Linked DNA regions of Homo sapiens. The protein of the gene in region 1 purifies or fractionates together with the protein of each later gene. This does not show direct contact. Each region holds a gene or a part of one and is shown in the gene's direction. Other genes may lie near its edges.

Region 1 (2,892 bases):
GCCTTTTGCCATATAAAGTTTAACATTCACAGGTTCTGGGGATTAGGATGTGGACATCTTTCAAGAGCCATTATTTAGCTTACCACAATATCTGTTAAGGTTTGAGTTGGCATGGGTACATTCCGTTTTCTACCTAAAGTCCAGGGTTAGTCTGTCCTGGACTGTCTCTAGCTTCCATATACAAACAGAACATGGATTTGATGATTTCTTCGGAATAGACCTAACTGTAGTGAATTCAGGTTTCTGCAGTCCTTACTCTGGCTGGCCACAAAGTTCAATGCTAGCTTTGGAGGAAACAGCTCTAGAAATGGTGGATACTTAGGAGAAGCTGCTCTTTACTGTGTTCTGCAGGTCATTCTTCTCCTGATAAAATGGTATTACAGACTTGTAGATAAAGTGCTATTGGTTTATACAGTAATTCTTATAATTACGCAACATGTGTTTGTTGAGCTCTTACATCAGTATTATACATGGGGCTGATGATATAAAATGAGTAAGACTCAGTCCCTGCCCTCAAGGAGTTTATACTCTATATAAGTTATCAGCAAAGAGATGCCCAGCATACCGTGGGCATACAAAGGAAATGTGTCTACCCAATCTTGCTGAGTCATGAAAAGGTTCCTACGGGAGTTACACTTGTGCTGAGTCTTGAAGGCCTGAGTAAGAATATGTTGTTACTTAGCAAGGACTGACATATGGCACTAGCTGGCTTTTGGGAACCTTGGTGAGAACCATTCCAGTGGAGTGGGGAGGAGGGTAGAATCTGGACCGCAGTAGACTGGCTGCTAGAGAAGTAAGTAAGTAGATAGGTATCTGGTGGGGCTAACCAGTCGCAGTAGGGGTTGGGGGAAGCCTGAAGCAAGCTTGCTGGAAAGATGGGAAGTGGTGGTTAGGGTGTGGGATGCTTTCAGTTGAGATTTCAGAGGTGGTAATGATAGAGGCAGGGCTACAACCATGACAGGAGTTGCTGAACTGAAGAGGAGCATGTTATTAAAGCTGAAGTTGAGGAACTGAGAGGTCCAGGTGTTAGATGGATCATTCACACAGATATCAAAGCCAAGCGAATGATGACAGAGGCAGTGATAGAAAGGAAGCCAGATCAGAAGATAAAATCATAAATAATTGAGTAGAGGTTGCTGAAAGGTGGGGAGGGAACAACACAGAGAAATGCCAAATGTGCCTTCTTATGATGTGAACTTAAAGGACGGGTTTTAAAATGTCCCTTAATAACAGGAAAGATACCTCATACTCTGACACTGATGGGGGGAAGGAAGAATGGGTATTATGGACTTTTGTACATTTTTGAAGTAATCCATATATGATGGTCTCAATTTTCATGATGAATTAGGAGGACAGGTTCTTAGAACAAGAGTTTCAGAGATAAGACCCTTGAAACAGCCACTGAGAGGAACTGGAGTAATAGCTCAACAAGGAGAAATAGAAGCATCAGCGGCTGTATTGAGGAACCACTGGAGATTGGGGCCACCACCCTCTTTGCCTTCTTAGTACACTGATAGCTAAATAATTGAGCTCCCCAAGGATTATACAATGCTGGCCATATAGTGGGTAATCAATAATTCCCTTAAAAATAATAGGCTTTAAAAATTAAATTAGTACATATTTGGTCATTGTAGAAAAGTTGAAAAATAAAGAAAACTCTAACAAGTTCCTATAAATAAAAATTTTCCATAATTCAATAACTCTGAGATAATCACTTTTTACATTTGATATATTTCCTTGCAGTATTTACATTTAATGTAGCTGTATTTGCATAAGTATATGTACATATATACACACACATATATACATATATACACACATATATAGACACACATACACACACACACACATACACACACACATATATATATATATTTTGAGACAGAGTTTTGCTCTGTCACCCACGCTGGAGTGCAGTGGCGTGATCTCGGCTCACTACAACCTCTGCCTCCTAGGTTCAAGCGATTCTCTTGCCTCAGCCTCCTGAGTAGCTGGGATTACAGGTACTGACTACTACGCCTGGCTAATTTTTGTATTTTTAGTAGAGACGGGGTTTCACCATGTTGTCCAGGCTGGTCTCAAACTCCTGACCTCAAGTGATCCACCCACCTCAGCCGCCCAAAGAGCATATATTTTTAAAACCAAATGTGGGGTGATAATAACTCCTTTTTATACAGTTTTTTCTAGAGTTGACATACCAAGACTTTTTTCCCTAAGATGATTGACAAGTATTCAGAAATACACAAGCCAGTAAGGCCACAACAATTTTAGAAGCTTCCAGTGCTAGCATAAAGTGGAGGGGACCACTTGGGTAGCATTTGGCTGCAGCTTTCTCATAGTTTTTTGTTTTTGTTCTTTAAAGATCTCTTAAGCTCATTAATAATGTGAAATATTCCCTTTCTAGGAATGCAAGAAACAACACCAGGAGGTCATATCAGTTTACAGAATGCATCTTCTGTATGCTGTGCAGGTATGGTTATGCCCCTTGAAGTATCTGGACATCCTAAAGAAATACGGCAGCAGATGTTGACAGAACTCCCATCATTTAACTAGGAGAATGAACAAGAATTAGAGGAGAATCCTTTTCACTGGAAAGCCTGAATATGCCTTTTGCATTGCTTTGGATTCTGTGTCAGGAGCCTTGTGCCCTGTTTACCAGGAACAGCCCCATCTTTTAAAGCAGGGCCTCACTCTGTCATGCAGGCTGGAGTGTAATGGCATAATCTCGCCTCACTGCAGCCTCGACCCACGGGCTCAAGTGATCCTCCCACCTTAGCCTCCCAAGTAGGTGGGATTACAGGTACCCACCACCGTACCTGGCAAATTTTTGTATTTTTGTAGAGATGGGGCTTTGCCATGTTGCCCAGGCTGGTCTCAAACTCCTGAGCTCAA
Region 2 (3,500 bases), on another chromosome or scaffold:
CAGTTGAAAGAAGCTAAGCATTTTGGCTAGCTGGAAAGGTTGTTTATTCAAGGGTGGAATGGGGCTGGCAGAGGCAAACAGCCTTTCACTATGAGAATGGCAGTGCTGGCTACAAGGCAGAGTCGAGACTGGCACAGCTTCATGGAGCTCAAGCTTGGCCCAGCAAGGAAAGCCAGAGGAGCTGTGGGTTCATTAACAGGATTGTTTGGGTGCCGAGGCCTGGAAGAACTGAAAAATCTAATTTAATATCTCTGCTTAGCAAGACTTGAGACATCCTTTTCCCTAAGTAAACAAGCTTGGTAAGTAATTGAAAAAGAGAATGGATTTGAGAACAAATAGGCAGCTATGGAAGTACATGGGCAGTGAGCTATTAACAATTTTCTAGGAGGTAGATTCTGTATTCTCTGTATTCTAGGAGTACAGAGAATACTGTACACTAGGAGCATTTGCTGTATTCTCCCTTTTGTATATTGGGTCTCTGGAAGCCTACAGCGTGGTTAGAGCTGACTGAATATTCTTAGATGTGTGGCACATCCTACGTGTGGCTGGGTCCTATGGATAGTTTTGCAGGCCATGATGTGCAGTGTCCCTTTAGCAGTCATTAACTCACAGTGAGTTATCAATGGGTGTTAGTTCTCTGTGGGTCTGACAACTTAGTATAGTGAAAAGAGTGCTGGCCTGTGGCTGAACATGCTGGAGAAGAGCTTGCCTGGCCACAGGGACACAGCCACGCAGATCCAGCATGTGTCTCCCATGTGCCAAGTGGAGCCCCCAGCCAAGAAGGCAGCCACACTAGCAGAGGGTGACAAGGACAATGACATTGACCTGTTTGTCAGCGACAATGAGGAGGAAGACAAGGAGGCAGCCCGGCTGTGGGAGAAGTGGCTGAGGTGGTATGTGGAGAAGAAGGCCAAGAAGACTGCGTTGGTGGTCAAGTCCTCCATCCCGCTGGACATCAAGCCTTGGGACAATGAGACCAATATAGCCCAATTGGAGGCCTGTATGCGCTTCATCCAGCTGGACGGGCTGGTCTAGGGGGGCCTCCAAGCTGGTGCCCATGGGCTACGGTATCCGGAAGCTGCAGATTCAGTGTGTGGTGGGGGACGACAAGGTGGGGACAAACTTTCTGGAAGAGGAGATTACCAAGTTTGAGAGCGTGTGTAGAGTGTCGATGTTGCAGCTTTCAACAAGGTCTGAAGCCTTAGAGTGTGTGTGCGTGCATGCGCACGTGTGCAAGTGTGTGAGGCCCTGCCACTATTAAAAACTGAGACCAACCAAAAAAAAAAAAAAAAAAAGAGTACTGGCCTAGGAGTCATAGAGTTGTTACTCATCTATTAATGTAGGATTTTATAATTTATAGAGTGCTTTCAACAACAGTTAACATCAATGCTATAAGCATGTGTATAAGGTTTACACAGCTTTTACACAAAGGTATTGAGTAGAGGCAGGAAGTAAATCCAAGCCTTCTGATTCCTAGTCACCGTAATTTTACCATGTATAAGTCATATAACCTTTCTGAAGTGAGTTTTTCCATCTGAAATATAGACTTAATACTCACTGTGTCTACCTCTTAAGATTGTTGTAAGATCATAGACAGAATGTGAAATATTTTGTACATTGTAAAACAAATGTACAAATGTGAAGTTGCAGTGGTTATGTCACTTCTTATGTTCTGGCACTGCAGGTGTGAGCTTTGGGGAAAGCTTCTAACTACAACTGTCCATAGTGTTGTGGAACTGAAAGGATTAAGGTTTTTCTCTCTTTATGGGATTATCATTACTGTTTATCTGATGATCTTTGCAAATTTCTGAAGCTAGCCTAATTTCTGAAAATCCCAGTGGAGGAAGAAATGGAATCCTTATTTCCATGGATTCCTGTTTCCCTTGAATCTTATCAAAATGGTAGGTAGATACTTGAACAGAGTCTGGGCTCTGGATCTAACCCTCCAGATGTTCATGAGTGGGTGCTTCAGAACAGAAAAGCTGCTTTCTTCATGATAGGCACAAGCAGGGCAGGGCCTTGGCTATCATTTCTAGAGGAAGAGAATTCCAGGATCTGTTCCCCCAGCAGGGTCAGTGATTGAGCAGACTGTCTTTTGCTTTCAGTGTGAAAGACCTGGCTCTTCAGGACCTCCCTTCTCTTTCAAGGGTTGTTGATAAGATGGGCTGGCCAGTTTGAAAATAAGATATAAAACAACACACAAGCCTGGCATTATATTTTGTAAGAAGATTGCTTTATAATCGTCTCTTCCACTGATCTCCTACAACTTTCCAGAGTCATGCTTAAAAATAAAATTTTAATTTTTGTTGTATTTTTTTTTCCTTTCATTCACTTACTCTCTTTGGCAAAATAAGGACTGCAATTCCAGAAATGTGGGGAGGCATCAAAGGTATGTAGCAAATGCAGGGAGAGAAATCAGTACAGAATCAGAGCGAGGATAAGAAGAATGATGGGTAACTGAGGCCTTTTTCAGGTCAAGTTAGTTCATAAACCTTTGGTTAATAAATCCTGATTTTTCTGGATTCTTGAAAGCTTTTTGGGCTACATGTTCAGCTGTTGAGTCCAGACTTTGAGAAGGTCATTTCTGCTTTAGTGTTATTGTCAGTTATTCCTGTTGCTCCTGCTGAGTCCCTGAATCTGTAGCTCAACCCGACAGCCCGCACTGTCTCTCTCCTGAGCGTGGCTGTCACTACTGCTCTCACCGGATTGCCTGTGGTGGGGAGGGGACATGAAGCTGCTTAGACCTGAATTTCTGTACTAGAACTTTTTTCTCAGTAGCTGACACCTCCATTCAGTTTAACATGTGCCTATGGTCACGCTTCTCAGACACACAAAAGAAATGTATGTCGGTCAGGAGTGGTGGCTCATGCCTGTAACCCCAACACTTTGGGAGGCCGAGGCAGGCGGATCACCTGGCCTGGCCAACGTGGTGAAACCCTGTCTGTACAAAAATACAAAAATTAGCTGGGCATGATGATAGGTGCTTGTAATCCCAGCTACTTGGGAGGCTGAGGTGGGAGAATCGCTTGTACTTGGGAGGCGGAGGTTGTAGTGAGCCGAGATCACTGCACTCCAGCCTGGGCGACAGAGCAAGACTCCATCTCAGAAAAAAAAGAAAAAAGAAAGGTATGTCATATTCCCTGTACCCCAGGAATCATGCAGTCTTACTGGGAAGTGAGGACTACATGAAAAAAAGAAAGTATGATATGACTATGCCTCACTGTGTGGTACAGAGAGTAAGTGCTATAGAAGGCCAGGAAAATGAAAGATGAGCCTGGGCCAGAGGAGCTATGGAGTCATTTCAGGTGGAAGGGCACTTGAACTAGGCTGTGAAGGAAGTATAAACAGTTAGGTAGAACGGAGGAAGGGTGGCACTCCAGGTCAGGAAACAGAATGATTAAAGGCCTAGGGGAAGAAGCAAACATGGCTTGTATCAGGAAACAAGGTGAGCTTTGATCTGGCTTTAAAGGGGGGTCCCTGTGGGGAACAAACAGTGTGAG
Region 3 (3,500 bases), on another chromosome or scaffold:
CAACCATCTTTTCCACATTATGTATGCAAAGTAAATTTGAAAAATGGGGAATGTTCATATTCCATATTGCCATTCTTCCGAAAGAATGCCATTTTTTGTGTCTACAGATGTTCTCTAGATTTCAAAAGGACAGGGGACAAAGAAACTTGGTTCTTTTCTCAAACTTGGTTCCTCTCTGAAGATACTAGTCTTCTGGCAGTGTTGGCAAGACTGAAAATAAGACTTTCATTTCTAAAAATGTTGCCTCATCTTTAGTGAGCAGACTTACAAGCTTTTGCTGAAAGCTTTATATTTACCATAAGAGTTTTCTTTCTTGGAAGTTTGTTATAATAAACTGTGGTGATATAGACATAATAGCCAACCATCTCTCATTCCCTTGTGTTAATCTGGTGGAGATTTATGAATATCATAAACTTCAGTTCTCTCCCAATTCTGTTTCTAAATAGACTTTGTTACTGATTATAGTAGTCAGTTCTTTCCCAATTCTGTTTCTAGATAAATTTGTTGGTTTCTGCTTATAGTAGTATGTCTGTTGAAAACATGTTCTGAGAACTTCTGGAGGGTGTTATATTCCCCTCCCTTTTTTTTCATTTTTGATGCCTCCTTCATTGATTTAAAAATATTAATTGTATGACATGATTAGAGGTGGTAGGCAGGAAATTGAGTTCTACCAGAAGCAGCTGTGGACTCTTAACTCTGAGTCTTAGTGGTTGTAGATTGGTTACAGATTTTGTGATAAGCAAGTTCCTATGTTACTTGCTATTGTGAACAGTTTCAGTAAAGATCGTGCATGTAACAATATTACCTGAGACCTAGCAAGACAATTAAATTTGTTATACTTAGAAAAAGTAGACTCTCACCATGAAGCCTGTATGCTCTAAATGCAGGCCTGTTTTCTTCTGTCTTAATATTTACTTGCCAATTAGTTTCCCATTTTTAACATGTCTTTTTTCCCCTTTTTCTTTCTTTGATTGGAATCTAGCAACTACATGCGATTATAGCAGCATCTGTCTCTATAAAGTCGTCCCAAAAACTCAAGAAAATTCTGGAGGCAAGTGCAGTTTTTCTTGTAGGTATGAAGGACTACTTCAGCTGCGTTCAGTGCCTGATGTGCTGTACTGATGGGCTTCTGTTTTCACCTTCTTTTGCAGATCATCTTAGCCCTTGGAAACTACATGAATAGCAGTAAAAGAGGAGCAGTTTATGGATTTAAACTTCAGAGTTTAGATCTGGTGAGTGGACTAAAAGAAATTTGAGAGCTGTTTGAAGGACAGATGGCTGGCAGAGATGAAGTTAGGGTGGTGGAGGATGTTTTGATGAATATTTTCTGCTATGGGAGGATCAACTGGTACTAATTTTCTGGAACACCATTTGACAGAGAGCACATAGAACCTATAATTACTCATACCCTTTGACTCAGTATTTCCATTTCTAGGAATTTTTTCTCAAGTGTCTGAATTTTGAATCCTGTATTTTATTTATAATTGCAAATTAACAATCTAAAGGTCTAACTGTGGGAATGATTAAATGTGCTGTAACACTAGTTAATACAGTGAACTATTATTCTTCCACCGTTAGCATACTGATGAAGAGTGTCCCAAGAAAGATTTGTGTTTAGAAAAGAAAGCAGGGTATGCTTTGCATGTACAGTTGAATCTCAGCTAAGTAAACTATGTGGGGAGAAAGACTGAATGGAAATAGGTTAAAATATTAGCAGAGGTTGGATGGAATCAGGAAATTTTTTCAAACTGCTTTTTGTAAGTACTTTTCTATATTTTCTTAAATTTTTGTTGTTGTTGTTGCATGCAGGGTGCTCTAATTTTCAGAGTCACCTAACTAATGTGAATAAGACTAGAGAAAATCCTCCGTGGACTCCCTCCAGACTGTGCAGGCCTAACGTGATTGTCACATGAGAAGGCTGGGCAGTGGGTTGAGTCCCCCGACCAGGGAGCTAGTTATTTAATATGGAGTGTCTAGTCAGTCACAGTTCTGGCCTCCAGCAGATCATGATCAGTTAAGCATGTCTGTTTCAGGTCTTCACAGGCTAGGAAATAAGGGAGGGCCTAAGCTAAATGTAAAAACTGGAGCATAGGAGCCCTGCTGTGTAGGAGGCACCTGCATGCACCTGCTGGCTGTACATCCCCATTTCTCCTCTGGCTTTTTACTTTGAAGAGCACTAAAATTAGAGCCGTCCTGCTTTTAAGGCAAGGAAGGTGGGATAGCAGATGCAGGGCTGGGAGAGTTCATGTAATCAGTGTCCCCCTTATCCATGGGGGCTGTGATCCAAGACCCCCAGTGGATGCCTGAAACCTCAGATAGTACTGAATCCTATATATACACTGTTTTTTTTCTAGAGATGCATATCTGTTATAAAGTTGAATTTATAAATTAGGCACAGTGAGAGATTCACAATAACTAAAAAATAAAATAGGCCAGGCCTGGTGGCTCACACCTGTAATCCCAGCACTTTGGGAGGCTGAGGCGGGAGGATCACCTGAGGTCAGGAGTTTGAGAGCAGCCTGGCCAACATGGCGAAACCCTGTCTCTACTAAAAATAGGAAAATTAGCTGGGCTAATTTTTGGGTCACAGGCACCTGTAATCCCAGCTACTCGGGAGGCTGAGGCAGGAGAATCGCTTGAACGCAGGAGGTGGAGTTTGTAGTGAGCCAAGATTGTGCCACTGCACTCCACCCTGGGCGACAGAACGAGACTCCATCTCAAAAAAAAAAAAAAAAAAAAAAATAGAGCAGTTAAATAAAACACGTTACTTGAACACAAACACTGCAATAGGCGGCAGTTAACCTGATAACCCAGATGGCTACTAAGTGATTAATGGCAGGTAATGATTACAGCGTGGATCCACTTGACAAAGGGGTGATTCTCGGTCTAGGGTGGATGGGAATGGCACGTGCGAGGTTTTATCATGCTGCTCAGAGTGGTGCGCAATTCAAATCTGATGAATTGTTTATTTCTGGAATTTTCCACTTAGTATTTTTGGATACCTGAAACCTGTGGGTTTCCTGAAACCATGGGAAGTAAACCTGTGGGTAAATAGGAACTACTGTAGAGGAAAGCTGCGAATCATTCTTAGGTGCTTAGAGTCATCCCTATAGTTAAGCATGTGCCCTGGTTGGAAAGTCCTTGAGCCAGTTAAGCATCAATGGACTGGTTCACTAAGGAACAAATGGAATCCTGACCCTCCTCTGGGAATGCTCCAGCCTGTTGGGCGACTGTTACTCAGTTAATGACTCTGGGTGGGAAATCGTCACCTGAGGGGTAAGTGTCTTGTTACCCTTTACTCTTGTACCTAACCCACGTTCCCTTTTGTTTTCAGCTCTTAGATACAAAGTCAACAGACAGAAAGCAAACACTGTTGCACTATATATCCAATGTGGTGAAAGAAAAATATCACCAAGTGTCCCTGTTTTATAATGAGCTTCATTATGTGGAAAAAGCTGCTGCAGGTACTTGATTTCAGCTATTACCGTTCGTCTTGGGTA
Region 4 (3,500 bases), on another chromosome or scaffold:
TGGAGTCTCCCCCTGTCGCCAGGCTGGAGTGCAGTGGCACCATCTCAGCTCACTGCAACCTCTGCCTCCTGGCTTCAAGCGATTCTCCTGCCTCAGCCTCCGGAGTAGCTGGGATTACAGGCACGGGGCACCACACCTGGCTAATTTTTTTGTATTTTTAGTAGAGATGGGGTTTCACCATTGTTGGCCAGGCTGGTCTGGAACTCCTGACCTCATGATCCACCTGCCTCGCCTCCCAAAGTGCTGGGATTACAGGCATGAGCCACCGCACCTGGCCTGCTCTGACCCCCTTTTAAAAGCTTGGCTCATCCTACTCCAATACCCCCGTCCCTCTTTCCAGCTTGACTTTTCTCCACAAATGTTTGCTGAATGAATGAATGAATAATAATAAATATATAATGAGTATAAGACTTAATAAATTAATACTAATATTAATCATGATTCTTTTTTTGGCCATCATGTATTTCTTTTCTTTCTTTTTTTTTTTTAACTGAGTCAGGGTCTCACTCTGTCACCCAGACTGGAGTGCAGTGGCAAGATCACAGCTCACTGCAAGCTCTGCCTCCAGCCTCCCGAGTAGCTGGGACCACAGGCATGCACCACCACACCTGGCAATTTTTTTGTATTTTTAGTAGAGGTGGGGTTTCACCACATTGCCCAGGCTGGTCTTGAACTCTTGAGCTCAAGTGATCCTCCTGCCTCAGCCTCCCAAAGTGCTGGGATAACAGTTGTCAGCCACCGCGCCCGGCTTGGCAATCATGAATTTCTAGTATCCAGCACATATTGGACACAGCCTCCAGGTCACAGTACCAAGTACTTTTATACATATTGCCCAATGTAATCCTCACAACAAGTCCACGAGGTTGGTGCCATTATTATACCCATTTTCCAGATGAGGAAACTAAGGCACAGAGAGGTGAATTCGCTTTCCCAGGATGCCACAGCTGGTAAATGATGGAGCCAGGATATGAGGCCTGGCCTTCCAACTCATGAGCCTGGGCTCTGAGCTCCTCTAGGTTTCTCTCTCATCTCCTTCTCCAGCAACCTTGGCCATGGACCAGCCGGCTGGCCTGCAGGTGGACTACGTCTTCCGGGGTGTGGAGCATGCCGTGCGGGTGATGGTTTCTGGGCAGGTGCTGGAGCTGGAGGTGGAGGACCGGATGACGGCTGACCAGTGGCGGGGCGAGTTCGATGCTGGCTGTGAGTGTGCCTGCCTGGGGTGGGCTCACCTTTCCTCTCCTGGGATCAGCTTCTCCCAGAATATCAGGCCACCCTGAATCCTGCCCACCTGCCTCTTCTTTGTCACCAGAAACTCTCCAGTGTGGGGAGGGGTGTAGGTCTTGTTGCTCAAGCCAGAGACACTGGAGTCGGGTAGAATTGCAGAGCTTAGGTGCATTGCCCTGGGGCTGGGCAAGCGGTCAGACCTCAGGAGAGACTTTTCTCCCCACCCAGTCATTGAAGATTTGACTCACAAGACAGGGAACTTCAAACAGTTCAACATCTTCTGTCATATGCTGGAGTCAGCCCTCACTCAGGTAGGGCCCGGGTTGGCGGGTTGGGGTGGGAGGGGGGTTCTGTCTTCCAGGTTCCAGGGGGGTTGATGCCCATCTGATGTATGTAAGACCCTCTACCTTCTCTTTCATTGTGGGAAGAGGGCGATCATTTTCTTCTTTTGCCAAGTGTAAATGCTTCATTTTGAACTTAATGATAGTTATTCTCATGTAGAAAATTTAGGTCACAGAGAAATATAAAGAAGAAAGTAAAAATCACTCCAGCCCTAATACTCGCTTCTGTTAATATTTTGGTGAAAATCACTCCAGTCCTTTCTCCATGTCTCTGTTTGTTTCCAAATACGTGTGTGTGTGTGTGTGTGTGTGTGTGTGTGTGTGTGTGTGTATGCATTTGCAGATCTGTAATTATATATAGTTTATATAATTTCCAAGGTATTCTGCAACCTGCTTTTTTTGGTTTGTTTGTTTATTTTTTTTTTGAGATGGAGTCTCGCTCTGTCGCCCAGGCTGGAGTGCAGTGGCACCATCTCAGCTCACTGCAACCTCCGCCTCCCAGGTTCAAGCGATTCTCCTGCCTCAGCCTCCTGAGTAGCTGGGATTACAGGCGCACGCCACCATGCCCGGCTAATTTTTTGTATTTTTAGTAGAGACGGGGTTTCATCATGTTGACTAGGCTGGTGTGGAGCTCCGGACATCAGGTGATCCACCCGCCTCTGCCTCCCAGAGTGCTGGGATTACAGACGTGAACCACTGCGCCCAGCCTGCAACTTGCTTTTAAAGGATTCAGCAATATCTCATAAAAATGTAGTCACATCAGTGAATATAGCCATTCATTCATTTCATTTGCTGAGCATTGACAGTGTGTCAGTCATTGTGGGGGACACTGGCGATACAGCAGTGAACAACAGACAAAACCCCTGTCCTCATGAGGCTGACATTTTGGAGAGACAGACAAATGAAAAAATACATAATGTCAGGTATTTAAAAGTTTTTGTTTGTTTGTTTGAGATGGAATCTCACTCTGTCTCCCAGGCTGGAGTGCAGTGGCGTGATCTCAACTCACTGCAATCTCTGCCTCCTGGGTTCAAGCAATTCTCCTGCCTCAGCCTCCCGAGTAGCTGGGACTACAGGCGTGTGCCGCCACACCCGGCTAATTTTTGTATTTTTAGTAGAGATGGGGTTTCACTGTATTGGCCAGGCTGGTCTTGAATACCTGATCTCAAGTAATCCTCCTGCCTTGGCTTCCCAAAGTGTTGCAATTACAAGCGTGAGCCACCGTGCCCAGCCTAAAAGTAATAATCAGGGGGAAGAAGCAGGTTAGAACTTAGAGTGACAGGGATGGGTGGTATTTAGATATCTTTTTTTTTTTTTTTTTTTTTTTTTTGAGACAAGAGTTTTGCTCGGTTGCCCAGGCTTAGTGGCACAGTCTCAGCTCACTGCAACCTCCGCGTCTCGGGTTCAAGTGATTCTCATGCCTCAGCCTCCCAAGTAGCTGGGACTACAGGCCTGCCCACCATGCCCAGCTAATTTTTGTATTTATTTATTTATTTTTTTTGAGATACTATCTGTGTAGCCCAGGCTGGAGTGCAGTGGCATGATATTGGCTCACTGCAACCTCCGCCTCCCGATTTCAAGCAATTCTCCTATTTCAGCCTCCCGAGTAGCTGGAATTACAGGCATGCGCCATCATGCCCGGCTAATTTTGTATTTTTAGTAGAGACGGGGTTTTGCCATCTTGGCCAGGCTGGTCTTGAATTCCTGGCCTCAAGTGATCCACCTGCCTCGGCCTCCCAAAGTGCTGGGATTACAGGTGTGAGCCACCGCGCCTGGCCTGGACAAGCGATAGTTTCTTAAAGGTTAGTTGCAATGTGGAATCTGCATCCTCATCAGTGAACTTTTTGTATTGTTACATTAAATTCCACTGACTTATCTTGCATTTTGTATGGATATTTTTTTACCTGTGGATGATCTTGTAACATCATGCATTGG

The links. Proteins that work in one complex are often made in the same cells at the same time.
Region 2: the proteins of RAI14 (region 1) and MAP3K3 purify together in Homo sapiens (tandem affinity purification; one large-scale study listed by IntAct). This does not show direct contact.
Region 3: the proteins of RAI14 (region 1) and FMNL2 purify together in Homo sapiens (affinity purification with western blotting, with the first as the bait; one study listed by BioGRID). This does not show direct contact.
Region 4: the proteins of RAI14 (region 1) and CCDC61 purify together in Homo sapiens (tandem affinity purification; one study listed by IntAct). This does not show direct contact.

The regions. Positions count from the first base shown.
Region 1 is NC_000005.10:34,827,328-34,830,219, forward strand, and holds part of RAI14 (ankycorbin), read left to right. Parts: intron 1-2,404; coding exon 2,405-2,470; intron 2,471-2,892. UniProt on the Homo sapiens protein: Plays a role in actin regulation at the ectoplasmic specialization, a type of cell junction specific to testis. Important for establishment of sperm polarity and normal spermatid adhesion.
Region 2 is NC_000017.11:63,635,917-63,639,416, forward strand, and holds part of MAP3K3 (mitogen-activated protein kinase kinase kinase 3), read left to right. Parts: intron 1-3,500. UniProt on the Homo sapiens protein: Component of a protein kinase signal transduction cascade. Mediates activation of the NF-kappa-B, AP1 and DDIT3 transcriptional regulators.
Region 3 is NC_000002.12:152,628,674-152,632,173, forward strand, and holds part of FMNL2 (formin-like protein 2), read left to right. Parts: intron 1-982; coding exon 983-1,051; intron 1,052-1,151; coding exon 1,152-1,232; intron 1,233-3,334; coding exon 3,335-3,464; intron 3,465-3,500. UniProt on the Homo sapiens protein: Plays a role in the regulation of cell morphology and cytoskeletal organization. Required in the cortical actin filament dynamics.
Region 4 is NC_000019.10:46,001,967-46,005,466, forward strand, and holds part of CCDC61 (centrosomal protein CCDC61), read left to right. Parts: intron 1-1,041; 5' UTR 1,042-1,052; coding exon 1,053-1,200; intron 1,201-1,452; coding exon 1,453-1,535; intron 1,536-3,500. UniProt on the Homo sapiens protein: Microtubule-binding centrosomal protein required for centriole cohesion, independently of the centrosome-associated protein/CEP250 and rootletin/CROCC linker.